Linked DNA regions of Homo sapiens. The protein of the gene in region 2 interacts with the protein of the main gene of each other region in a pairwise test. Each region holds a gene or a part of one and is shown on either strand. Other genes may lie near its edges.

Region 1 (7,294 bases), on a different chromosome or scaffold from region 2:
GAATAATTCATTTGGGGAATCAACTTGATGTTTAACATGTATTTGAAATAAATTTACATATGTTTTCTGCCTGTATAAATAATGATCAGTGATTCCCATGTATCTCTCAGATGGGCATTGAAATACACAGTTGGTCAGAAGGTCTTCCAAGCAACTGGAGATTGTAATATGCATTTTTCAATGGTAACCATGTTATTATCCATTCTGTAATACATTTTTTAAGAAGGCAAAAATGTACAAAGTATTAGTTAAAACTGTCAAAATGTCAGATACAAAAGTTCAATATTTTGAAAAATAATAATTTCCATATAATTTGCTCTATTATAATGATACCCAGTCATGTCCCCTAAAATAACCAGCTAGGCCTAAATATTATTATCATTGTTTCCCAGAACATAAGATTTTCAGTTCTGTACTACTAGGACTCTCTATCCCTCCTATTGCCCTGTCCCCAGACAAACACAATACTTTGTCACTATAGATTAAGTTTTATGTCCTAGACATTTATTTAAATGGAATTGTAGAAATGTTTTTCTGCGTTTGTTTTTGATTTTTGGTTTGGCTTCTTTCATTCACCCAATTTATTTTTAGATGTATCCATTTTGTTGCACATATCAATAGTTCATTCTTTTTTATTGCTGAATAGTATTCCAGTATATGGCTATATCATAAATTTTTTATCCATTCACCTGTTGTTGGATATTTTAATTATTTCCAATTAGGATCTCTTGTAAACAAAGCTTCTATGAATATTTGTGAATAAGTCTTTCCATGGAAATAGGCTTTCTTTCTCTAATAAATACTTAGGAGTGCAATGGCTGGATCATGTGGTAGATGTAAGATTAACATTGTAAGAAACTGCCTGTTTCCAAGTGTTTGTACCATTTTTCATTACCACCAGTAATGTATCACTGTTTCATCCTCCACAACCTCGACAGAGCTTGGTATAATCTGTCTTTTTAATTTTTTTAATTCTCACAGGAGTTTAGTAGGATCTCATTGAAATTTTCATTTACATTTCCCTTATAACGAGTGATGCTGAGCATCATTTCCTGTGCTTACATGATATTTGTATGTCTTCTTTAGTGGAATGTCTATTCAAATATTTTGCCTGTTTCTTTACTGGTGTGTGTTTTCTTCTTACTAAGATTTTAAACATATTCTGGATACAAGTCCTTTATTAAATATATAATTTTCAAACATTTTACCCCGGTCAGCAGCTTACTTGTCTATTTTTTCAACCATGTAGTTGGAAAGCTAAAGTTTTTAACTTTGAGGAAGTCCAATTTTTCAATTTCTTTGCTTATAGATTGTGGTTTTGTTGTCTCATCTATGAAATCTTCACCTGACCCATTGTCAAAAAGATTTTCTCCTGTTTTTTTTTTTTCTGCTAGAAGTTTTATAGCATCAAATTTTATATTTAGATCTCAGGTCCATTTTGAATAGACTTTTGTATATAGTGTGATATCTGAGTCACAGTTTATATTTGTGCATGTCAATATTCACTTGTCCCAGCACCATTTGTTGAAACAATAATCCTTTCTCCACTGAATCACCATTGCATCTTTGTCAAACTCAGTTGTCCATATACTTGTGGGTCTATAGCTGGACTCTTTATTCTGTTCCTTTGATCTACTAATCCATCTTGATGCCAATAGCACACTGTCTGGATTACTGTATGTTTGTAAGGAGTCTTGAAATCAGGTAGTGTTTGTCTTCTAATTTTGTTCTTTATCAAAGTTGTACTTCATAGTTGATATGGTTTGGAACTGTGTCCCTACCCAAATCTCATGTCAAATTGTAATCCCCAATGTTGGATATGAGGACTGGTGGGAGGTGATTGGATCGTGAGAGTGGATTTCTCCCTTTGGTTCTGTTCTCATAATAGAATTCTCATAAGATCTGGTTGTTTACAAGTGTGTAGCACCTTCCCTGCCATGTAAAACGCCTGCTTCCGCTTTACCTTTCGCCATGAGTTAAAGCTCCCTGAGGCCTCTCCAGAAGCAGATGCCTCTATGGTTCCTATATAGCCTGCAGAACCGTAAGCCATGAAAACCCCTTTTTTAAAATAAATCACCCAGTTTCATGTGTTTGTTTTTAGCAATATGGGAACAGACTAATAGAGTCTAGGTCTTTTACATGTCCATATGAATGTTAGAATCAGCCTGTCGGTTTCTTTAAAAATTTTTTAATAGGATTTCCATTTGAATTGCTCTGAATCTATAGATCAGTTTTGGAAGAATTGACATCTTAACAATACTGAATCTTCTCAGTATTGTTTGTGACCCATGAGCATGGTAAGTCCTCCACTTATTTAGGTCTTTAATTCTCTCAGCAATGATGTGTGGTGTTCAGTGTACAGGCACTGCACATCTGTGGACAGATTGTTCATAAATATTTCATACTCTTGATGATGCTATACATGGCTTTGTTTGTTAAACACAATTGCTAATTACTATATTTTCACAGTACTATCAGCAACCAAGTGTTTAACATCAGTGAGGCATTTTTTTGGTTGAAAGCACAGCTTACTCTAGGATGGAAAAGGTATTTGATCCTTAACCTGTGTTTACCTGTATTTCCGTATCTGCTTTTACAAGTCATTGGCGATATATTGAAACTATGGAGGAAAATGTTCCAGAGACAATTCTACAGGTCATCTTCAGAAATCACACCAAAAGAACATAGTTTAGTAGCTTTCAACTTTATATGTGTGGTCAGAAATGATTTTGTTGCAATGTGTGGCTCAGGCTGGAGTGCAATGGTGCAATCATAGCTCACTGCAGCCTTGAACTCCCAGGCTCAAGCAATCCTCTCACCTCAGCCTCCTGAATAACTGACTACAGGTGTGTGCCCCCATGCTCAGCTAAACTTAAAAACATTTTTCAGAGACAGAGTTTTGCTATGTTGTTTAGACTTCTCTCACACTCCTAACCTCAAGCAATCCTCCTACCTCAGCCATCTGAGTAGCTGGGATTATAGCCACGAGCCACCATGCCTGGCGAGATTTACTTCTTTACCCACCAGTAAATCAACCTCAATAAATTCTTGGAATTTGGAGTGGTGAGAGGGTGAGCAAGCATATATGTATGTGAGTATGTATACATTTGTATGTCACTGAAGCTGTCAGGAATTTTTATTGTAAGGACTACTTGAGGTTAATTACTGTGCATCATGTCAATCCTATTTAGTTCCTAGTACATATTAGGAACAAGCTCGGGATAGTGGTGTTTGTTTTTTCTCAGCTTTCCTTGGCCAGAATGGTTACCATGGTGACTCAGTGACTGCGGTGTGATTTGGTGCAGACTGAGCATCCATTTAGGATTCTTGCCCGAATCTCTCACACCACATTGCCTGTCCATCAGATATAGTATTAGCTTTTCATCTTATGTGTAATTAATCACTTTTCAAGGGCTCAGAAGAAAGTTGCTTCACTTATCTGAGGTTAAGCTACAGATAACATAAAAAGACACTAAGTACCTTGAAATAAAAGGAAATGAGTTGTTGATATTCCTCTCCTGCCCCAATCTCTATTGGGAGGTTAGAAGAGAAATTCTTGGAATCATACAGCATGTGCTCTTTTGTGTCTTGCTTCTTTCAGTCAACATAATGTATGTGAAATTAATATTTATTGTGGTCTATATTGTAGATTGCTTATTCTCATTGGTGTAAAGTATTATATTATTTGGATATTTCACACTATATTTATCTGTGATGGAGATTTGTGTATTTTCCAGTTTTTGACATCTCATGAATAATGGTGTTATGAATGTTCATGTTCATTCTTTTGGATGAACATATATTTTCTTTTTTAAAAAAATCTTATTATCAATAATATTTGAACTATTTAATATCTGTCATCTTAAAATTATTATTCATAACACTTTTTACCTTGTAGCTATAGACAAATACATTCCCATTTTAGCAGGTTAATGAAATTATCTTTATAATACTATAGAAGCATTTATTTGAAGAATACCAGAAGGAACATCCTGAAAACCAAGAACTCAAAATGCCTTTTTATCCCAAAGACATGTTTTACAAATATATACCCATTCATCCATTTGTTTTCACAAATGAAGCTACAGAGAACTTTGAATATAATGATGTGCAGCAGGGGCTTATTCCTAACATATTTAAAATTTAGGTCAACCAAACTTCTCTGTGGAAACTGAGTTGAAATCCGAAATCTTACAATCCTAATTTCGAGCCACATTCATTTTAACTTAATTTTAACATGTTTTGCAAAATGTTCCAATATAAACTTAATAGTTCCTATACCACCAAACATGGATCCTCATGATTTTATTTTCTAGATTGGCTGATAGGCTGAATAATCTCCTGTAGGGTAAGAAGTGTCAACTGTATCAAGCACATGGAGGTGGACTGGCTACAGGAGAAAGGTTTTCCAAATCAAATTCCAAGTATTTCTTTCTCTTTTTATATTACCATTAGGAGAAATAACTAATGTAGATGACGGGTTGATGGGTGCAGCAAACCACCATGGCACGTGTATACCTATGTAACAAACCTGTACATTCTCCACATGTATCCCAGAACTTAAAAGTATAATAAAAAAATTTAACAAAATGGTGTTAGATTCAGAGGCTTGATTCAATTTAGATTTGTTTTGGTCAGAAGTACTTCATATGTGGTATTGTTTATTCCTATAGTGTTACACAGGGGGCTCATTGTGTCTAATTGTCTCTCCTCTTGTGATGTTAAGATTAATTACTATGTTCAAGTATTGTTAAGCTGATCCATCCATTATAAAATTTCCCATCCCTTTTTCACCTCGATTTTTCTGCAGCGTCTAAGGATTGTTGCTTAGTTCTATATTCATTAAAGGTCATAAAAGGATGATATTCTAATTCTATAATTTTCTCTGCTTTATTAGCTGGAATTATTCTATTAAATAAACTTTCATAAACCATTAGGTTACACTGAGGGATAGTATGTATAGAAAGGGTTGGATGAGTGCCTAATTCTTTTGCAATATTTCCACTTTTCAAAACAATGAGTTGTTTCCCTAGGGTTCTCCAAAGGCAAGCAATGAGTTGATATTGTTTGTTTTATTTTATTTTTCTTTTAGAGTGTCATCATGAGCTGTAGAAGTTTTTATATTATAATGTGTTTTAATCCATAGTAGTCATTATTTTATTTAATGTTCAAATTGCTTCATCTTTGTCCAGCGAGAGCCCCTTAAGCTTGGCTTCTGAGTCTTTTTGACGCACTCTCTGGCATGATAGTTTGGTCCAGATTCATCTAGTAGAATGGCTACACAGACCTAAACTCAGTCATTTCTCTAAGATAACCTAGTTCCTTTCAGTGTGATGTGTTTTAAGTGGATTCAATATGGGCACTAGAGTTGCTCATTGCTACTGGGTCTATCATGTTTCTTCACCTTTCTAGTGCATGGAGCCAGTGTATATATATTATATTTTTAAGGGAAAAGACATTATTGGCTTCTGTCCTGGGCTGTTTTTCCTTCTCTTTATAGGTAATGATTTTTTAAATCAATTTTCATTAAAACTTTCCAATTTTAAAAATATAAGCAAATAGAATGTTTCTATTAGTTTTCTCCTATTCCATATATATAAGGTGACATATTCTACACTGGTGGAGTCCAATAGAATTTCTACAAAGGTGAAAATATTCTATGTCTCAACTGTCCAACATAGTAGCCACTAGCTACCTGTGACTATTAAACACCTAAAATGTGGTGAGTGTGACTGAGGAAGTGAATTTAAAATTCCATTTAAATTTAGTTAACTTAAATAGCCATGAGTGGCCAGTGGGTATGGTATGGGACAACAGCAGCTCTACACATTTTTCTGCACTTTGCTTTATTCACTTAATGGTATATCCTGGAAATCACTACATAGCAGCAGAGAGAGGGAATCTTCCTTGCTTGTTATACCGGCATTGAAATCTAGGATGTAGATGCACCTTAGATTATTCAGTCAGTCCTTTATTGGTGGACATCTGTCTTATTTCCAGTCTTCTGCTGTTACAATTTGTTCTGCCAAGAATGACCTTGTGCTTCTGCCTTTTTATCTTTTTGAATTGTATCTTTGGGATACATTCTCCGAAGATTGTTGGTTCCAAGATAAAATAATTGTGCCCTATGAAATAGAAGATTTGAAACAGAGAGCATTTAGAAATATAGTAGCAATAAATGAATGTTGGTTTTATCTTATCATTCCTTTGATTCCATGTACTCTCTGCTCTCTTATTTTCTTTCTAGTGTGACGTGGGTGAAGGAGTTCTTATTGAGCCATGGGAGGAAGAAATAGTACAGAAGAGCAAAGAATAATAATGAGTCAGCTAGACAGAAGACAGGAGTCATCAGATTTGTACCCTAGTTACTCGACCCATCAACTGACTGTGGTTTTTGGGGTGAGTCTCTTCCCTCTGTTGGCCTCTGGTCTAACACAGAAGGATACTCAGTATAGAAATAGTGGTTAGGGGAGGGGGCTTTTGGGTGAGAAGGACTTGGATTTGACCCTGATAACCATTACTTGCTGGTTGCATGATCTGTATCAACCAATTTATCTACCGTGTGCCCTGTAACTATTTATGTCTTTTATTATTATTCCTATCATGCATACAAAGACTGAATGATAAAAGTGGGGATTACTTTGCCAGGTATTAAAGTGTTCTTTGAGCGTATAATTTCATAAGTTTTGGACAGAGTGGTTGACATGCAGGTTAAAGAAGTCTAAAGAAAGCTCTTGAGTAGACCCTGGCATATAACGTCATTTAAGATGCTGCAAGTATGGCATTTCTACTCAAATGCATTGTTAAGGAATTGGGTCTGGGCCAGCTGTAAAGGGTTCATTAAAAAGCAAAGTTAGATTATATCTTATACCTTGTCATGTACTTAGAATGTTTCATCCACATGTTAGTACTTAAGACAAAAGCAAAACTGAAAATAACAACAAAAAACCCAGGATGCTATACTGTACATATAATTATAACAGCTTTATGAATTGTATTTGTAATGCATGTACAGTACATGTGCATATATCCATGTATAAAAAATCCTTAGAAAGATCTAGTACCATGTTAATTTTAATTATGATGGGATTGCTGGCTATTGATATTTTTAACCTCTGCATTTGGCTCAATATTAAACATTTGCTAAGGTGAGAGTATGGATTGTACATACTCCATACCCCATGCTTGACTTACTATGGGAGTTACATCCTGATAAACTCATTGTAAGTTGAAAATAATTGTAGGTCAAAAATGGGCATTTGTAGACAAGATGAGATGTGAAAATACAATATCA
Region 2 (5,704 bases):
ACATTTAGATCAAAAACAAATAATAACCTATTAAAAAAGAATAAAAACATTACTGTTCCTTTTCCCTTTCAAATTGCAGAATTCAAAAATAATGGAATTGCTTCAGGTGGTACCAAGCTGTGTTGCTTCATTAGATGATGTGGCTGAAACTGACCGCAAGGAGTATGTCACTGTTAAGATCAGGAAAAAATGTAAGAGTTTACGTTCTTTCTGTCACGCTCAAGTTGGGTATATTTAGACATTCATGAGTAGTTGCTGGTGTTCATTTAATTGTATATGTAAAGTGTAATTATAATCATGCCTGGAGGAGATACAGGCACCAAAGAAATGTATGTTACCTCCCAATTTATCAGACTATGGGTAAGCTTTTTTTGTTACTAGTTTTCTGGTTGATGGTAATGATGTTTCCTGAGGAAATAGGATAGAAACTGTCAACACTACCTTGAAGGTTCAGGTGTCTGCCTATGGAGATGGGGAACAGTCTCTGGGATAGTTTCTTTCATGCCTCATGTTCCAAAGTCAGGTGTTCTGGGCATTTCCTGGACATCCAGGGTAAATGCTACCTTTCAAGATTTTTTTTTTTTTTTTTTTTTTGAGACAGAGTCTCGCTCTGTCACCCAGGCTGGAGTGCAGTAGTGTGATCTCAGCTCACTGCCAGCTCTGCCTCCTGGGTTCACGCCATTCTCCTGCCTCAAGTAGCTGCCTCCCACTCTCAAGTAGCTGGGACTACAGGTGCCAGCCACCACGCCCAGCTAATTTTGTTTTTGTATTTTTAGTAGAGAGGGGCTTCACCGTGTTAGCCAGGATGGTCTCCATCTCCTGACCTCGTGATCTGCCCGCCTTGGCCTCCCAAAGTGCTGAGATTACAGGTGTGAGCCACCAAGATTTTTTATTTAGTTAGTTTTTTTGAGACAGAGTCTCACTCTGTCACCCAGGCTGGAGCGCAGTGGTGCAATCTCAGCTCACGCAACCTCTGCCTCCTGGGTTCAAGTTATTCCCCTTCCTCAGCCTCCCGAGTAGCTAGGATTACAGGCACGTGCCACCATGCCTGGCTAATTTTTGTATTTTTAGTAGAGACAGGGTTTCACAATGTTGGCCAGGCTGGTCTCAAACTCCTGACCTCAAGTGATCCGCCCTCCTTGGCCTCCCAAAGTGCTGGAGTTACAGGTGTGAGCCACCGCGCCTGGCCTCAAGATTTTTTTTTAAGTTTGTACGTGTACGGAGGTTGATTATAATTAAAACAGCAGTTGCCGAACAGCAGTGAGACTGAAGTATTTTCTTCTTTTTAAAAAGTTTAGAAGGGGTCCTTGTTCTACTTTTTTTTTTAATTTACAATATGAAATATTATCCAGTGAGGTATGCAATAATGCAATACAATAATATGGATAAACCCATTCACATATCTCGATAACCCTGAGACTGTCTCACCGTAATTGGTTGTGGCTGGGGGAGTTAAGGGAGTTAAGGTTTTATTTTTCTATTTCATGGGGGTTCTCATAATACAGGCTGACTACCCCCTATCTCAAATGCTTGGGACCAGCAGTGTTTTGGGTTTTGGAATATTTGCATTATACTCATTGGTTGAGGATCCAAATCAGGAAATCAGATTCTTCTGAGCATGAAGTCAAAGAGTTCAAAATGTCTCGGATTTTGTAGCTTTTTTTTGAGATGGAGTCTTGCTCTGTCGCCCAGGCTGGAGTGTGGTGGTGCAATCTCGGCTCACTGCAACCTCTGCCTCCTGGGTTCAAGCGAGTCTCCTGCCTCAGCCTCTTGAGTAGCTGGGATTATAGGTGCGTGCCACCACGCCTGGCTAAGTTTTTGTATTTTGGGTAGAGATGGGGTTTCTCCATGTTGCCCAGGCTGGTCTTGAACTCCTGACCTCAAGTGATATGCCCACCTCGGCCTCCCAAACTGCTGGGATTACAGGCATGAGCCACTGCACCCAGCCTGTGGCATTTTAGGCTTTAGATTTTTGGATTGGAGATACTCAACCTGTTATAAATAGGTACTAGCTGTGTTTCTTTAAGCAAATTCAGTGCTTCAGTTTCTAAATTTTGTAAATCTGAGAATAGAAAGATTGTGTCTGTGCTGTAATTTTAAAATAATCTTTACAACTGTTTTTGAAGTTTTTAGATGTTTATCTTTTTATCTACAGGGAACTCAAAACTGTATGATCTACCAGATGAGCCTTTTACAAGACAGTTTTACTTTGTCCACTCAGCTGGTCAGTTTAAGTGAGTATGAAACTCAAGTTGATTTCTGTGCTTTTGCCCCTAGTTTACTCCAAGCTGCACGTAAGCTGCTTCAATTGTAATTGGTTATGGACAAATCTGCACCTACTAATGTCAAAAATGCTGCCACCTTGTGGCCAACCAGAGTGTTTCATGCCACTGTCCCAAATATTTATTTTCGTTTATTTTGGGTTTTAGGGGAAAGACTTCAAGGGAGATTATGGCAAGAGATAGAAGTGTCCCTAATTTAACCGAAGGTTCTTTGCATGAGGTAAGTTATTAAACACTGGCTTTTAATCATATTTTCTAAAGCCCGGCTTTGTCAAAAGTAATCCATGGTAAACACGTCTCCTTGATCGTCATCTTCATTATTCCGTGCGCCGTATGAGTTAGCAGCAGTTAAAACTGGAATTATTTCATGGGACAGTGTAGAGTACAGACTTCACTGATTGTTATAACTAAAAGTACATTTCTGAGCAGAGGAGTGGAAAGTGTTACATGTGTGGGAAACCACAGGTCTTGGTGCTTATAGGAGATGAAACATCCCACATTTCACTATGGTTTTAATCACCAAAGAAAGAAAACGACAGTTTGTATATAGATGGGTAAATGATGTCTCCAAGTATGGTGTACAGTTGCTCAGACAATTCTTTATGTGGCCATCTTCCCACTACATTTTTTTATTTATTTATTTGAGACAGAGTCTTGCTCTGTGGCCCAGGCTGGAGTGCAGTGGCACGATCTCGGCTCACTGCAGTCTCCACCTCCCGGGTTCAAGCATTCTCCCGCCTCAGCCTCCTGAGTAGCTGGGATTACAGGCATGTGCCACTATTCCTGGCTAATTTTTTTGTATTTTTAGTAGAGACGCAGTTTCACCACGTTGGCCAGGCTGGTCTTGAACTCCTGACCTCAAGTGATCTGCCCGCTTTGGCCTCCCAGTGTGCTGGGATTACAAGTGTGAGCCACCGTGCCCGGACCCTACTGCATTTTTAAATCACTCAGAAGCTTGATTGAAAACCTGTGATCGGAGACAGTGATTCTTCTCAGAACCACAGCTTTCCTTGTTGCTGATGAGAATTTATAGCATATGTAGCATAGGCTTGTTGGAACAAATACACAAAAGTTCTAAATTGTTTTAGATAATTAAAATGATTTTAATTAACATGACTAATTTTGATACCATATTTAGTCTTATGTGGTGTTGCTAGGAGACCTGCTGCTTTGTGGGAAAGCCAGAATCGTTGAAATCTGCCTGAGTTCCATCAAGTGCTAGCTTTTCCCTTGCTAGCTGTAGGACTTTAGGCAGGTGGCTTAACTTTGCTGATCCTGTTTCCTCAGGTGTAAAACGGGGATAACAATAGTAGTACATGCCTCCTAGAGTCATAAAGATTGTGAAAACAAGTGAAACATTTACTCTGACACATGTAGTATGCACATGCCATGTTACCACGACAGGGATGTGAGAATTGAAATTATGCCTGTCAAGCACTGAGCACATTATGTGACACTAGGCACTAAGGGGCAGCTGTCACTGTCATGGTTGTGGCTTCCAGTACAGTGAGGACGTCAACGGTTAAAAATGTACTTTTTCTTTAGCCAGGGAGGCAAAGTGTCACACTGAGACAGAATAACCTGCCAGCTCAGAGTGGATCTCATGCTGCTGAGAAAGGCAACAGCGACTGGCCAGAGAGGCCTGGACTGACACAGACTGGCCCTGGACACAGACGGATGCTGCGGAGACACACGGTAGAGGATGCGGTCGTGTCCCAGGGCCCGGAGGCTGCTGGCCCCCTCTCCACTCCCCAAGAGGTTAGTGCTTCCCGGTCCTAACAGGAATGAGGAGTTGTTGAACCCACTGCTAGGAAGCAAGGATGCAACAAGATGATGCTGAGCGTGAACACATCTGAGAACTAAATGTGCTTCCATGAGACTGGCTTGAGAAGTCTTCAGCACCAAGTTCCTGAAAGCTTTTCTGTGGCAGGAAAGAATGCAACAAAAAAGTTAACCACCACCATCTCTCTCCTCTTCAAAGCTAATGAATACAATTGAAACAGACAAAAATTCCAGTAGCATCCAGATCCTTAAGCCAGAGGTGCATGCTTCTTTTTAAGTATGAGGGTTTGTTGGTCACAGTGGGAGAGGTTTCACCACCGCATTCTGACCTCCTCCTCCCAAAAGGTGCTAAACCTCTCTGACCTGTGTACATTCACAAACCACAGCTAGAATTCCTCCACCTAGGATTAAGCTGGAGAGAAGTAAGTAATTTAGGTTTCATGGTACTGTAGAGGCCAGGCTGAAATGTCATATCTGAAGGAAGAAAGCAGCAGCTGGACAATGTTTCTTTGCAAAGCAACACTCGAACCAAAAGATGCCTCAATCCCATTTTGATATTCATTTTAGTGAAAGGATGCATCAGACCTGTTCCACATCATGCACATGGGAAAGGGTGGTTATCATTTTCCTTCTAACAAGTAGGTACAGATATTCGGTTACTACACGTGCACCTGTAGCAGTATTTCTAGAAACATCCCTTTTTGTTGAGAACCTCCCTTGAATGTCTGTCACACTCACACCTGACGGGATGGTTACTGGATTAGAGAGTAGATTTGGCACATCTTTTCTTAGTCTTTTGATTCAAATTCAAAACTTAACAGCACAAACCAGGTCAGAGTTACTTTCGGTTAGAATTTATTGCCATTTATTCCTTTTTATAAATTTCTATAGATTATACTGTTATTTTTATGTTATTGGCCTAGAGCTACACGTATATGGGTTTGTCCTGAGTCCGTTTTCAAATGACCTTGTGATAGGGAAATGGTTTTGTCCATGTTCTTGGAAATACTTGTGTATGTACAGAAGGAAGGGAGGGATTATTTTTCTACAAAGTAATTTATGATTTCTAATTTTCTAATGTGCCTTGGATATGTGCCAAATGATGGAAAAGAAACAGTAAACTTTATGATTCTTGACTGTGTCATGGTATTTTTTTTTAGTTGTTTGGCTGCAGATGATATGTTTCTCAGCCTGTCTGCTGTAAACATGTGCTTTGTGTGTGAGAAAAAGGGTCCCCATTGAATGGATATACATTTTTCAGTTATAGATGTGAGATTGAAACATGGGAACTTGATCACTTAGCTCATTATTCATCTACTGACCAAGGCCTACTTAACCCAGTAGGCACAGTGTCCCGGGCCCACAAAAATGTTTTTCTTTGGAAATCAGAAGAATAAAATGAATACAGCTTCCTACCCCAAACAAACAGGAAATGAGCCCTGTTGCTTTGCTAATTTCTTTGTTCTGATTTTTCCTTTTCCCTTTTTTTTTTTTTTTTGAGATGGAGTCTCGCTCTGTCACCCAGGCTGGAGTGCAGTGGCACCATCTCGGCTCACTGCAGCCTCCGCCTCCCAGGTTCAAGCAATTCTTCTGCCTCAGCCTCCTGAGTAGCTGGGACTATAGGAACCCACCACCATGCC
Region 3 (7,423 bases), on a different chromosome or scaffold from region 2:
GGGTGCCCCTCATCCCTCCACCAGAGCTCTGGTCCCCCCTGCCTTGCCGACCCAGACAGGGCAATGGGCTGGAGCTTTTCCAAGGCCTGCCCAGGACCATTTATGGACCCTCAGGGCACCCTCAGAAGCAGACACCTTCCCTTTCAGAGTTGGGGCCGCCCACAGAGAAGGGTCTCACCAGTACTTCACAGATTCAGACTTACAGAAATGCTGTGAGAATAACACAGATGCTTCCAGCACCCTTCACCTACATCCCCCCACGACCACATGCCATGTGTATGTTTTCACATTTTTTCTTTTTTTTTTTTTTTGAGAGCGGGTCTCTATTTTCCAGGCTGGAGTGCAGCCTTAACCTTCCTGGGCTCAGGTGATTCTCCCACCTCAGCCTCCTGACTATCTGGGATTACAGGCACCCACCACCACGCCTGGCTCATTTTTGTACTTTTAGTAGAGATGGGGTTTCACCGTGTTACTCAGGCTGGTCTCAAACTCTTGGGCTCAAGCCATGTGCCTGCGTCGGCCTCCCAAAGTGGTGGGATTACAAGTGTGAGCCACCGGGCCCAGCCAGCACATTCTTTATGTTTTTCTGCACCATTTGAGTCAGCTGCCCATTTTGGCTCTGGAATTTTCAGCGTGCATTTCCTCAGAACAAGGCAGCCAGTGCGGTGCTCAAACCCGGGGCTTTTGCAGGGATGCCGTCCAAGCCACCGACCCCATTCCAGCGTGTCCCACGTGTCATGGGCCAGTCTCCAAAGCCTCTGGGGGCTTAGGGATGGAGCCCGTTACTCAGGAGTGTCCCTGGCTGGGTCTGCTGGTGACCCTCATGATGAGATGCCACTCATGCTTGTGGCAGCAGCAGAGGGCACCACCCAGGGTGGCACACAGAGCCCACCTGTTCATCCCAGTGATGCCAACGTGACTACTTGGTCGAGGTCTTGTCTGCAGGATTTTCCGCTGCAAAGCTACATTCCCTTGTCATTAATTTGTCCACAGAAATGGGACCATGTTGACGCTCCATCCCTCACTGCCCTCATCCACTGCACGCTGTGTCCACCAAGGTGATTGGCTCTGTCCACTCATGGGATGTGAGTGAGGCCTCCCCTTGGCAGCAGGCCAGGACTGGGGGGGGTCCCTGAGTAGCTGAAACTTGTAGGTGCTCCCTGGGCACAGGGCTTCAGGGGCCAAGGCTTGTCTGCCCCACTGGGCAACTGTCCACCCCCTTAGCAGGACTTTGAGGACATCCCGGCGGCTGCTGGGCTCCCCGGGGGCAGGGTGGACACCCCAAACTGCTCCCTTTGTCTCCCAAGCCCCTCACTTGGACAGAGGCTCCGCTTAGTGTCCTGGCCCGTCTCTGCCATGGCCATTGAGTGTGGGGTGTGGCAGAAGGGGGCTGTCAGGGTCTCCACCAGACACTGCTCAGGCCTCCGAGATGGGCCCAGAAATACCCTGACTGCTCAACAAGTGGGTGCCCAGGTGGTGGCTCACCCCAAACTTCTGGGTGGAGGTCTCTTCCCACACTCCACTGTCTTTGGCTGCCCTGTCCCTGGCCTGAGATCTCTCAGCTGCAGGGATGGTGTCCTGCCCCTGCCCAGGCCTGGCTTGGCCATGGTGGACCCCAGGACACCCTGCGTAAGTGCACGCAGCTGCCCCTCGGTCCACAAGGCCTGGATGCCAGAGGATGGCACCCCTCTGTCCATCCCTCCCTTCACTGGGCCTGCTGCCCCAGAGTCCGTCCCTCCCTTCACTGGGCCTGCTGCCCCAGAGTCCGTCCCTCCCTTCACTGGGCCTGCTGCCCTAGACCCATCTGGGTTCCCTGGGACACTTTTCTGCTCGGAGGCTGGGAGGTCAGAGGGCACAGCAGCTTTCCAAGGATCTCACCCTATGGAAAGGTTCCTGAACCCAGGAACCCAGGACAGGGCTGTGTCCACAGGCTGTGGTGGGCAGCTCCAGTGGGAGAAACCTGACTTCTTCATCAGCCAGGGGATGACCCTTTCTTGTCCCAGGAGGTGGGAACTAGGCAGCAGTGGCCCACGGCTGGGTCTGGAGAGCGTTTTACTTTGTTTTTCTTTTTTAAAAAAGTTTATTTTTGTGAAGACCATAAGAACATTTTTAATTGTTTATTTTTGAGGCACTTTTTTTTTTTTTTTTTTCCTGAGACAAGAGTCTCACTCTGTAGCCCAGGCTGGAGTGCAGTGGCACAATCTCAGCTCACTGCAACCTCCGTTTCCCGAGTTTAAGCAATTCTTCTGCCTCAGCCTCCTAAGTAGCTGGGATTACAGGCACGTACCAACATGCCTGGCTCATTTTTGTATTTTCAGTGGAGAGGGGGTTATCACGATGTTGGCCAAGCTGGTCCTGACCTCAGGTGATCCACCCACCTCAGCCTCCCAAAGTGCTGGGATTACAGGCATGACCCACCGTGCCCGGCCTCAGAAAGCGTTTCTGATTTATGTTCTCAGGAAAGGAGGAGACGGCTGCTCACCACTATCCACCCCCCGCTTCCAGGCAGTCTCAGAAACCGAGGAGGAAACATCACATCTTTGGTGCTTCCCGTCCCTGGAGTGAGGGGCCTCAGGGACTTCACAGCCAGGGCTCAAGTCTGGGCACAATGACCTCTGAGCAGAAGAGGCTCTCCCTGACCCGCCAGGTTGTTTCCGGGTTAATGCCTGGGGAACTTGGCAAGGCGCCATCTCTACAAAAAATACAAAAGGTAGCCGGGCATGGTGGCGCCTGTAGTCCCAGCTACTCGGGAGGCTGAGGCTGGAGGATCGCTTGTGCCGGGGAGGTAGAGGCTGCAGTGAGCCGAGATCGCGCTACTGCACTGCAGCCTGGGCGACAAAGGGAGACCCTGTTTCAAAAAAGAAAAAACTGGTGCGTCGATGTGGTCGCCGCTTAGTCAGGCCATGTCTTCAGCTCTGGGGGACGGGAGGTCACTGGAGGTGTGGGGCTGCCCGTCCTGGCGTCCCTCTGTGTAAGCAGCACCTGCTCCCGGAGGCACAGCCCTGGTCGGGGCCCCTCTGGAGGAGGGTTCTTGCCGGGCTCTGCTCCTCGCCGGCGGGGCAGACGTGACGGGCTCCGCACCCGGTCTGGAGAGGGCTGCGCTGGGTCGGCGCTGACGTTACTGCTTTTACTTACGACTGTAACAGCGCTACTGAACGCAGAGCACGTATCACAAAGCTCACCCGTTCCGAGTGAGTAACTTCACCGAGAGAGGCAGGACCATCCCCACGACGGTAGGACCTTCTCGTCACCCCAGAAAGAACCACGTGCCCACTCAACCCCCGACCCCACGCCGGGGCCCGCGGACGCAGCCGCCTCGCTCGCCCACGCACCTGCGGCAGCCGGGCCCGGCAGGGACGAGGGCTCGGCGGCGCCCCCGGGAAGAGCGCGGTCCGGGCCCTGGGTCCCCGTCCAGGAGGCGCCGCTGCCGCAGTGAGCACGTCGGGCCGGGTCTTGAGCTCGCGCCGGCCGCGCTCCCCGCGTCCCGAGCTGTGGCGGCCGCGTCCCCGGGCGGAAGGCTCACGCTCGGTGACGCCGCGCTGTCCCAGAACCTCAGCGACTTTGCAGACTCACTGGTGACCCAACGGTGCGCCCCGCCGCCGCCGGGCGGAAGTCCCGCCCCTGCCCCGGAGAGGAAGTTCCGCCTCATCGAGCGCCGATTGGCCGCACCGCCTTAGAGAGGACGCGCCCGGGGCCACCCCGCCGCTCCCTCCGAGGGTTCTGCGGAAGCAGGCGGCACAGCCTGCGAGGGGCTTTCGTTTCCCGGACTCAGCCGCATCGCCTCGGCTCGGGCGCGCCTGCATCCTGCCGCCCGTCCGCGCGTTGAAGGGGCGGATACAAACAACGTGGACTTCCGAGCCCCTGATTGGCGAGCGTGTAGGAAAGGGGCGGGGTTAGCAGAGCCGTGATGGACATGCAAGCGACCCAATGGCGCCGGCGACGGGGCGGGCGAGGACAACGGCGTTGTGGGCCGGGGGCGGGGCGGCCGGCGGCTCTGGGATTTCTCTGGGAGGCAGCCGCAGGGAAGGGAATGATCTTGGTGAACTTATAATCGAACCAATGGTTCCGGGAAAGCAGGAGGCGAGTGGCCAATGGCGACGGCGATGAGGCAGGCGTCCGCTGTCTCCGCAACGCCGTGTGGGAAAGGCGGGGGAGGGGCGGTCATGACAGACGTGCAGACAGGCCAATGGCTGAGGGAAGGAGGGCGGCGGGCGACCTCTGGTGACTACGGGAAGGCAGGGCGGGGTGGTGAAGAGGCGGTGCGACCGGAGGTCTGGCGGCGCCGTGTGGAACGCCGTGAGGGCGGGGAAGTCGTGACGGACGGGCGGGTGGGCCAATGGGCTCGGGAGGGCGGGCGAAGGGTGGCCAATGGCGGCGGCGCGGCCGGGGGTGGGGCGGCGCGGCGGCCCTGGTGGTGCGGGAAGCGGCGGGGCGGCGGCGAGGCTGAGGTGCGCCCGGGCGCGGGCGGGGCGGGGCCGGCGCTGGGCTTCGGGCGCGCCCACTCGGCCGCCGTGGGGCGGACGCAACGGGCGCAGGTGCGGGGCGCGGGCTCTCTCACGCCGCGGCCTCACCCGGCGGTGCTTCGGCAGGCGGCCGGCGCGGGGCGCAGGCGGCGCGGCCATGGGCTCGCAGGGCAGTCCGGTGAAGAGCTACGACTACCTGCTCAAGTTCCTGCTGGTGGGCGACAGCGACGTGGGCAAGGGCGAGATCCTGGAGAGCCTGCAGGACGGCGCGGCAGAGTCCCCGTACGCCTACAGTAACGGTAAGGCCCGGCCCGCGGCGCGCGCTGCTACGCGGGGCCCGAGCCCGGCGAGCTGGGCACGGAGCTCGCCCTCGGCCCGGCCCTTCCAAGCGCCGCCGAACGTTCCCAGGAACGCCTTTGCCTGGCTTCCAGACTCGGTAGCTCGGTGGCTGCGGGGTGCCCGTGCTCCAGTCCCGAGGTGACGCCGGGGGGCAGGAGGACGGACCAGAGGGACGCGCCCAGCGGGGACGGTGCCATGGACCCGGGGTCTGGGGGACGGTGTCACGGGTCCGGGATCTCAGGGGAAGGTGTCATGGGTCCGGGATCTGGAGCCCAGGGGAAGGTGTCATGGGTCCTAGAGAAGGTGTCATGGGCCTGGGGAAGGTGTCATGGGTCTAGGATCATCTGGGGTCCGAGGGAAGGTGTCATGGGCTCGGGGGAAGGTGTCGTGGGCCGGAGGGAAGGTGTCATGGGTGCAGGATCTGGGGTCTGGGAGAAGGTGTCATAGGTCCGAGGGAAGGTGTCATGGGTCCAGGATCTGGGGTCCGGGGAAAGATGTCATGGTCCCGGTAGAAGGCGTCATGGGCCAAAAGGAAGGTGTCATGGGTCTAGGATCATCTGGGGTCCGAGGAAAGGTGTCATAGATCTGGGGGAAGGCATCATGGTCCTAAGGGAAGCTGTCATGGGTCTGGGATCATCTGGGGTCCGAGGGAAGGTGTCATAGATCTGGGGAAAGGTGTCATGGGTCTGGGATCTCAGGGGAAGGTGTCATGGGCCTAAGGGAAGGTGTCATGGTCTGGGATCTCAGGGGAAGGTGTCATGGGTCTAGGATCATCTGGGGTCTGAGGGAAGGTGTCATAGATCTGGGGGAAGGCATCATGGTCCTAAGGGAAGGTGTCATGGGTCTGGGATCATCTGGGGTCCGAGGGAAGGTGTTATAGATCTGGGGAAAGGTGTCATGGGCCCGGGGAAGGTGTCACGGACCCAGGTCTGGTGGCAGGTGCTGCTGGGCTGCTCTTGGGACCCTGTCTCGAGCGTGCACAGATGACAGGTCCTTATAGGCACGCTGTTCCCCTGAGGTATTTGCTTACTGCTGAGGGAGTCAACGCTTTGTGCTAGAAGAAAATACCTCTGTAATGAGTTACTGAACATTTGTTTTGTTTTGTTTTCTTTTCTTTTCTTTCTTTTTTTTTTTTTTGAGACGGAGTCTCACTCTGTCGCCAGGCTGGAGTGCAGTGGCACAATTTCAGCTCACTGCAACCTCCGCCTCCTGGGTTCAAGCGATTCCCCTGTCTCAGCCTCCCGAGTAGCTGGGACTACAGGTGTATGCCACCACGCCCGGCTAATTTTGTTGTGTGTATTTTAGTAGAGACGGGGTTTCAGCATGTCGGCCAGGATGGTCTCAATCTCCTGACCTCATGATCTGCCCACCTCGGCCTCCCAAAGTGCTGGGATTACAGACGTGAGCCACTGCGCCTGGCCTGAACGTTTGTTTTTAACTTCCAGTGGCATGGCTAAAATACACTAGATAGGTGGCATCACTGGGGCTTGCCTGCCTGAGCATGCCTCTTAATTTAGGTGGTTAACAGAGTGAGTGAGACGGTGTGGTCCTCATCCCCTCTCATGGGGGCCTGGACCCAGCCGAATGGGATGTGGCCCCAGATGAACTGGGAGCAGTCAGCATCCAGCCTCCCCAGAGTCCATCTGCGCTTCAGGGAATGCCATCTACGCTGGCGAACTTACCTCTCCTGGTCCCTGCCCTCTCCCCTTGCTTTGTTTCTTGGGCTCTTGTCCGTCCTGTCTGACTGCCCTGAGCGTCTGCTATTTGCTGAATTGTCTGCCTTTGGCTGCTGAGAGTGTGGGCGCAGCATCCCCCACTCTCTCAACTCGGGGGTTGGCAGAGCGTGGGATTACCTGGACTGAGGCTGAGCGCGCTTCCTCCTGGCATGGCTTCAGCAGTGGGCAGCAGCACCGGGGGCTCTGGAAGCTTGTGCTCCTGGCTTCAGCCTGGAGGAGGGGTTGGAAAGGGCCAGGGAGGAAGAGCTCTGTGTCCATTTTGAGGTGGGGGAAGTGTAAGGCCCACTGGGGCATTGGGGGCTCACACGTTAGGCCCCTGCACCTGCCGCCTCCTGGTCCTGCACTTGACAGTGACTGCCCCAGAATTGGTAACTCCTGACTCAGGTGGTGGGCGGCCAAGTTGATTGTGAAGGTGGCGTTGCCTTCTAAAGCTTGGCTCCAGGGGCGCTGCGCACTCCCAGGAGGCTGGCGGCGTGCGTGTTTGTGCATGTTCAGAAGAGCACGGGAAGGATTGGGTTTCATCAATCGGTGTTTTCCCAGGACATGAAGGCGTGCTTCTGAGGGCCGGCTCAGCCATGCTGGCCAGCTCGCCTACCCAACTGCACCACACAGCCAGGAGCTGGAGAGACAGGACCCTCCTTCCTCCCTGTCCCCTTCGTCGGGCTGTGGGGCATTGCCACACTTCCTCTGACATGCTCACTGAAGTGGGGCCAGTATTGTGTAAGACGTGGAGACCTGCCTGCTTGCAGAGACTTCAGAGGCTCACAGTGGCTTGGACCAGAGGCAGAGAGGAGAGTCCACTCTTAGAAAGACACCACGTGCTCTCAGGGCCCGGGGCACACTTCCAGGTCCCCGCAGGAGTCCTGTGGCCTCGAGCAGAGAAGG
Region 4 (7,029 bases), on a different chromosome or scaffold from region 2:
GAGTCATAGCAGAAGGGTGTCTGGGTCACCGTCTGTGTGTGGTGCCCATCTTGTTTTGCTTTTGCACACTCAGAATCCAGTGTGACTTTTTCGCCAGACCCATTTAAGTGTCTGTCTTCCTCTGCCTTGGTCTTTCTCAGCAGTGTCCCAGTGCCTGCTGTCTGGACTGCTGCATCTGTACCAGATGTGGGAGGGATGACAGTGAAGAAACACATACATACACACACACACTCTTTCTCTTTCCCCTTCATTCAAGTGTACACAGCTACCTCCCTCAGGTCTCCCAATGGTTAAGTGGGTTCTTAATGCAAGAAACTAGGACCATTGTGTACCTCACTTGGCAAAGCTAGGTTGGGACCTGCAGGGTTATTGGAGCAGAATCAGTATTGTTTGGGGTGGCCTGGGATTTGATATCTGAAGTGGGGAGCAGGGCTGTCCTTTGCTTTGGGGGAGTCTCATAAAGAAAAATGGAGACGAGAAGTAACGTTCATTGTGGCCAGTGTCTCTCCAGCATTACCATGGCAACAATCCCCACGGGTGTCACTATGGAAATCAGGCCTGGCACTTGAAGTTCAGCTTATACCAAGTGCTTTACTGAGGGTTGAACAGGTTGGTCATCTTTGGACCCCTGATCTTAAACCCCCAGCCCCAATTAGCTTCAGTCAGCACACATGATAGAAAAGTACAGAAAGGTGCTGGGATACACAAATGGAAGAGGAGACACCAGGGAGGCTCGGAGTGTGATTAAATTAAAAGAGAACAAAGAACCCTGGACTGTGGGACTCTGAAGAGAGGCCCTTCAGAGAAGGCTATAAGGAGCACTTAGACTGCTGGGGGTGGGAGAGAGATTGGATTTCGGCGACATTTCTAAGAGGAGGAGGGACTCTGTGACTATTTCTCATTAACAACTCACAGAGTCTTCGATTACCTGGAGGTAGAGAGGGTGGGTGGCAGAATTACATACTTCTGAAAATGGGATTGAGGTTGGAAAAAGGGAGTGATGAAAGGCTTTAGTTCTGTCTGGAAATACTTGGAAAAATGCCCAAATGTGAGGAGGGGGGATATGGAGTAGGGGAAGAAAAAGCCTTGATAAGGCTCTGACACAGTGTTGGCATTTCAGTTCTTGGATCACTTTGCAGTGTGGGTCTGGAATCAGATTGCTTGAATTTGAAACTGTGCTCTACCATTTCTCAGCCATGTGACTGTGGGGAAGCTACCTGACCTCTTTGAGCCTGTTTCGTCATCTATAAAGTGGTAATAATAATAGTATCTATGTCCTAGGATTACTGTGAACATTAAATGAGATAATGCATATAAACTGCTTTGTAACATGGCAGGCACACAGTAAACCCTCAATAAGAGTTAGATATTATCACTATTTTATATGCTATCTCCCCACAAGCTAGCTTTGACAAAATTGGGAAGTGGGTAACACTTTTCCTTTTTACTAATTGTTTCATGCAAACCTCCAGATCCCAAGTATCTTCTTGCTCCCTTCCTTGTCAATATCTATGTTTAGTCAACAAATATTTATGAAGAGCATCTGTCATAGTCCTCTATATGTTGCTATAAAGGAATACCCCAGGCTGGGTAATTTATAAAGAAAAGAGATATATTTGGCTAACAGTTCTGCAGGCTGTACAAGAAGCATGGCACCAGCATCTGCTCTGATGAGGGCCTCAGGAAGCTTCCAGTCATGGTGGGAGGCAAAGAGGGAGCAGGAATCACATGGCGAGAGAGGGAAAAAGAGGGAGAGCAAGAGGTGCCAAGCTCTTTTTAACAGCCAGCTCTCACATGAACTCATAAAGCGATAACTCACTCATTACCATGGGGAAGGCACCAAGCCACTCATCAGGGATTTACCTCCTTGAGCCAAGCACTTCCCACCATGCCCCACCTCCAACAATGGGGATCAAATGTCAACATGAGATTTGGAGGGGACAAACATCCAAACTACATCAGCATCCTATAGGCCAGGGACTGTGTTTGGTGTTGGGGATTTAAAGGGAATCCCTGCCTTCAAGAAAATCTGGATCAAGGTTGTGATCCATAGCCCATGGAGTGGCCTGCGCAGAGGCAGGGGAGAGGAACATCAGATATGGCTTTTGCTAACTATCTATATACTCCCCCAGATTCTGATAAGGAACCTCCCACAACATACTACAGTCTGATTCAGAGTATTGTGTGTTATGAGAGCTGTAAATAATGGTGGTGCTTCCCATGTCTATGGGCAGGAAAAGTGGAAGACCACTGGTCTAGTTATTTTCATGAAAAGATCACTTTTCTCTAGGCACATTGCCCATGGGTTAGCCCTGCTGTACAAGGAGCAGTAATGAAAAAAAAATCAGGCAAAATTAATTCATCCTGAGTATAATCAATAGAAAATTAAAAGAAATGTACAAAACTTAGCCGAGCATGGTGGTGGCTGCCTGTAGTCCCAGCTACTCAGGAGGCTGATGCAGGAGAATTGCTTGAACCTGGGAGGCGGAGGTTGCAGTGAGCCGAGATCTTGCCACTGCACTCCAGCCTGGGCAACAGAGCAAGACTCCGTCTCAAAAATAAATAAATAAATAAAAATTAAAAAAACAAATTGGCTGGGCACGGTGGCTCACGCCTATAATCTCAGCACTTTGGGAGACAGAGGCGGGTGGATAACAAGGTCAGGAGTTCGACACCAGCATGGCCAACATGGTGAAACCCTGTCTGTACTGAAAATATAAAAATTAGCCGGGCGTGGTGGTGGGCGCCTGTAATCCCAGCTACTCGGAAGGCTGAGGCAGGAGAATCGCTTGAACCTGGGAGGCGAAGGTTGCAGTGAGCCAAGATCATGCTGCTGCACTCCAGCCTGGGCGAAAGAGTGAAACTCTATCTCAAAAAAAAAAAAAAAAGAAAAAGAAAGAAAGAAAAAAAAGAAAAAACAAATTTACATTTTAAAAGGAATAAACAACTTAAAGACATAAAGAGCCAGGCTTGGAATTTTAGAGCCCAGCCAAGAATACAGAAGTAGGTAGCAGGCCTTCCCAGAACTCCTGAAATCATATCTCATGTCACATGGCTTTCCCTGCTCAGGAGATTACTAAATGCACCAATTTTTAGCTCTTGGGTATCTTTTTTTTTTTTCAGACGGAGTCTCGCTCTGTCACCCAGGCTGGAGTGCAGTGGCGCGATCTCGGCTCACTGGAAACTCCGCCTTCCGGGTTCACGCCATTCTTCTGCCTCAGCCTCCCAAGCAGCTGGGACTACAGGCGCCTGCCACCACGCCCGGCTAATTTTTTGTATTTTTAGTGGAGACGGGGTTTCACCGTGTTAGCCAGGATGGTCTCGATCTCCTGACCTCGTGATCCACCCGCCTCGGCCTCCCAAAGTGCTGGGATTACAGATGTGAGCCACCGCGCCCAGCCCACTCTTGGGTATCTTTTAGACTCAGATCTGAGAATCTCTTCCTTCTTCCCTCTCTGCTCTTTTCTTTCTTCCCAGCCTAGACTGATGTAAAGGGGTTCCTGATGAAAAGGGGCTATAATTGGCTTCAGCATTTGGAGAGCGCTCTCCATTTTAATGCGTCTGTGGAGCCTTCTAGATCCTGTAACTGGGAATGTTTTGAGGGAGTGTGTGTGGGGGCTGGGGTGGGGTGGTTGGTGTGTTGGTGCCCATGTGTTTGTGGGGGGAGGGGAGGGGCAAGATTGGCTTGAGAGTTACATTTAATCCCCTTTGGCTGGGTGCCTGGCTTCATGAAGCATGGATAGAGATTGTTGGTGGGAAAGAGATGAGAAAGCCAGTCTCATCTTTTCACATTTTTCTGCCTGTTTTATATTCTGGCTGCACTGGCAGTTGATTAAATGATGCCCACCCAGATTAAGGGTGGATCTGCCTTTCCCAGTCCACTGACTCATATGTTAATATCCTTTGGCAACACCCTCACAGACACACCCAGGATCAATACTTTGCATCATTCAGTCCAGTCAAGTTGACACTCAGTATTAACCATCACAATTCCACCCCTCATCAACTTGAACCCATACACATCTCCTGAGATCGTACAAATCTTCAAATAAGGACAATAATAAGGTCATAATTATGCGCCTAATATAATACAACTATCCTTCGTACAACCGGAAATGCACCAATCCCCAACCCAAATGCTATTATATAAAGTTAACATACTTAAATGCTGATACGAAGTCAATAAGTCTTATGTCACATAATAAAGGAAAAAGGAAATTAAAAAAAAAAAGATGAGAGGCATTGGCTTGAGATAGACATATTTTGCTTGTTTCTGTTTCTTGGCCACTGGGTGGGAGAAACATTGAGGTAGATTACAATTTAAAATTAATTACAATTCAAAATTAAGGTAGATTTTTCTTTAATAATATTAAAAATAATGTAATTACAACACTAATACATTTTAATTGTTAACAAAGTTCAAGACAAAGGAAAGGACACCGAAGAAGCTAAAAATCACCCAATATCTTACCACCCCAAAGAAGCACTGTTATTAATAATAATTTGATGTATTTTTCCAGTGTTTTTTCTACATATATACATATGTTAATTTTAATAAGATTATATATCATAAACTATATATTGTTTTGTAACCTTTTTTCTCAAACAAAATATTATTACTATTTTGCCATTGTTAAATATTTTTACATAACTTTATTATTTTACAATTTTTCTGTTTTTTTTTTGAGATGGAGTCAGGCTGGAGTGTGCAGTGGTGTGATCTTGGCTCACTGCAACCTCTGCCTCCCGGGTTCAAGCAATCCTCCCACCTCAGCTTCCTGAGTAGCTAGGATTATAGGCATGTACCACCATGCCTGGCTATATTTTACAATTTTCAATTTAACTTTCGAATGTCTTACCTGCACATGTGACAAAATGCAAAGGATATGAAAAGGTTTATATTGTTTCCTTCTCCTTCTCACCCCTCTTTTCCAGCCACACAGTTCCCTTTTCAGAAGGCAACTTCTTGTGGATCTTTCCAAAAACCTACTATACATTTATAAGCAAATACATATATACATGCATACCTTTTTTTACACAAATGGTAGCGTATTATACATCCATTCTGCACCTTTAAAAACAAAAACAGCCTGGGTGTGGTGGCTCATGCCTGTAATCTAAGCACTTTGAGGCCGAGGCGGGAGGATCACTTGAGGTCAGGAGTTCGAGACCAGCCTGACCAACATGGTGAAACCCCATCTCTACTAAAAATATAAAAATTCTGGCTGGGTGCAGTGGCTCACACCTGTAATCCCAGCACTTTGGGAGGCTGAGGTGGGCGGATCATGAGGTCAGGAGATGGAGACCATCCTGGCCAACATGGTGAAACCTCGTCTCTACTAAAAATACAAAAATTAGGCCAGGTGCGGTGGCTTACGCCTGTAATCTCAGCATTGGGAGGCCAAGGCGGGTGGATCACCTGAGGTCAGGAGTTCAAGACCAGCCTGGCCAACATGGCCAAACCCCATCTCTACTAAAAATACAGAAATTAGCCGGGTGTGGTGGCGGGCGCCTATAATCCCAGCTACTCTGGAGGCTGAAGCAGGAGAACTGCTTGAGCCCGGGAGGCAGAGGTTGCGGTGAGCTGAGATGGAGCCACTGCACTCCAGCTTGGGCGACAGAGCAAGACTCTTGTCTCAAAAAACAAAAAGCAAAACAAACAAACAAAAAACCCAAAACAAAACAGAGTCTTGGACACCCTTCCTTATCAGCACATAAAGATTTATCTCATTCTTTTTTGGTTTTGTTTTGTTTTTCAAGACAGGGTCTCACTCTGTTGCTCAGGCTGGAGTGCAGTGGTGCAATCATGGCTCACTGCAACCTTCACCTTCGAGGCTCAGGCCATCATCCTGCCTCAGCCTGCTGAGTAGCTGGGACCACAAGGCCCATGCCACCACACCTGGCTATTTTTTTTTAATTTTTGTAGAGACAGGGTCTCCCTATGTTGCCCAGGCTGGTCTCCAACTCCTGGCCTCAAGGATCCTCCAGACTTGACCTCCCAAAGGGCTCGGATTACACGGTACATGAGCTATCTCATTCAACTGTATAATTTGTTGTAGGGATAGGCCATTATTTAACCAGGCCTCTGTTGGTGGACATTAAGGGTTGTTCTAATCATCTGCTATTACAAACAGTTGAATGACCTTGTATAAATATTTTTTGCATATGTGCAGTATGTCTACAGGATAAATTTTTCGAAGTGGAGGTCATAAAGCATATGCATTTAAAAATGTGAGGCTATTTCCAAATTGCCTTTCACAGAGTTGGCTCCAATTTCTATGTACCCTCAGCAGTATGTGTGAATATCTATTTACTCACATTCTCACCAGTGTAATGCGTTGTCTATTTTATTTTGGCCACTTTCATAGGTAAAAATGGTGTTTCATAGTTTTAATATGCATTTTGCTTATTAACAGTGAGGTCGAGCATTAATTAATATTAATTAATATATTTTAACATTTAGGAGCCACTATAACATCATTTTATGATGTTATAATTTATGATAGTGATATAATTTACATACAGTGTACAGATCTTAGGCAAACAGCTTGATAAATTTTATGACATATGTAGACACCCATGTAACCACTACACAGATCAAGATCTAGAACATTTCTGTCACTCCTGAAAGCTCCTTCATATCCTCTTCCTGTAAATACCACTTGTATGTTGTTACCACAATAGCAGGTAGCTGCTGTTTTGACTTCTAGCACTACAGATAAGTTCTGTCCATTCTTGAACTTCATATGAAGGGAGTAATACAGTATGTGCTCTTTTGTGTTTGGATTCTTTCAACGTGTTTTTGAGATATATTGACGTTCTATTTATTAATGTTCTATTATGATATTTTAATTTTATTTATTTATTTTTTTTGGGACAGAGTTGCACTTTGCTGCTCAGGCTGGAGTGCGGTGGCGCGATCTCGGCTCACTGCAACCTCTGCCTCCTGGGTTCAAGCGATTCTTGTGCCTCAGCCTCCCAAGTAGCTGAGATTACAGGCATGCACCGCTATGCCCAGCTAATTTTTGT

What was found.
Region 1: the proteins of ANKRD27 (region 2) and RAB40A interact in a two-hybrid assay, tested with the Homo sapiens proteins (one study listed by BioGRID).
Region 3: the proteins of ANKRD27 (region 2) and RAB40C interact in a two-hybrid assay, tested with the Homo sapiens proteins (one study listed by BioGRID).
Region 4: the proteins of ANKRD27 (region 2) and KIF5A interact in binary tests that used the Homo sapiens proteins (3 or more experiments, as listed by UniProt).

The regions. Positions count from the first base shown.
Region 1 is NC_000023.11:103,516,479-103,523,772, reverse strand, and holds the start of RAB40A (ras-related protein Rab-40A), read left to right. Parts: upstream 1-4,283; 5' UTR 4,284-4,403; intron 4,404-5,829; exon of another isoform or gene 5,830-6,125; intron 6,126-6,247; 5' UTR 6,248-6,399; intron 6,400-7,294.
Region 2 is NC_000019.10:32,596,502-32,602,205, reverse strand, and holds the end of ANKRD27 (ankyrin repeat domain-containing protein 27), read left to right. Parts: intron 1-79; coding exon 80-191; intron 192-2,155; coding exon 2,156-2,234; intron 2,235-2,429; coding exon 2,430-2,502; intron 2,503-3,827; coding exon 3,828-4,061; 3' UTR 4,062-5,200; downstream 5,201-5,704. UniProt on the Homo sapiens protein: May be a guanine exchange factor (GEF) for Rab21, Rab32 and Rab38 and regulate endosome dynamics.
Region 3 is NC_000016.10:585,672-593,094, forward strand, and holds the start of RAB40C (ras-related protein Rab-40C), read left to right. Parts: upstream 1-4,394; 5' UTR 4,395-4,620; coding exon 4,621-4,762; intron 4,763-7,423. UniProt on the Homo sapiens protein: RAB40C small GTPase acts as substrate-recognition component of the ECS(RAB40C) E3 ubiquitin ligase complex which mediates the ubiquitination and subsequent proteasomal degradation of target proteins.
Region 4 is NC_000012.12:57,553,037-57,560,065, forward strand, and holds part of KIF5A (kinesin heavy chain isoform 5A), read left to right. Parts: intron 1-7,029. UniProt on the Homo sapiens protein: Microtubule-dependent motor required for slow axonal transport of neurofilament proteins (NFH, NFM and NFL). Can induce formation of neurite-like membrane protrusions in non-neuronal cells in a ZFYVE27-dependent manner.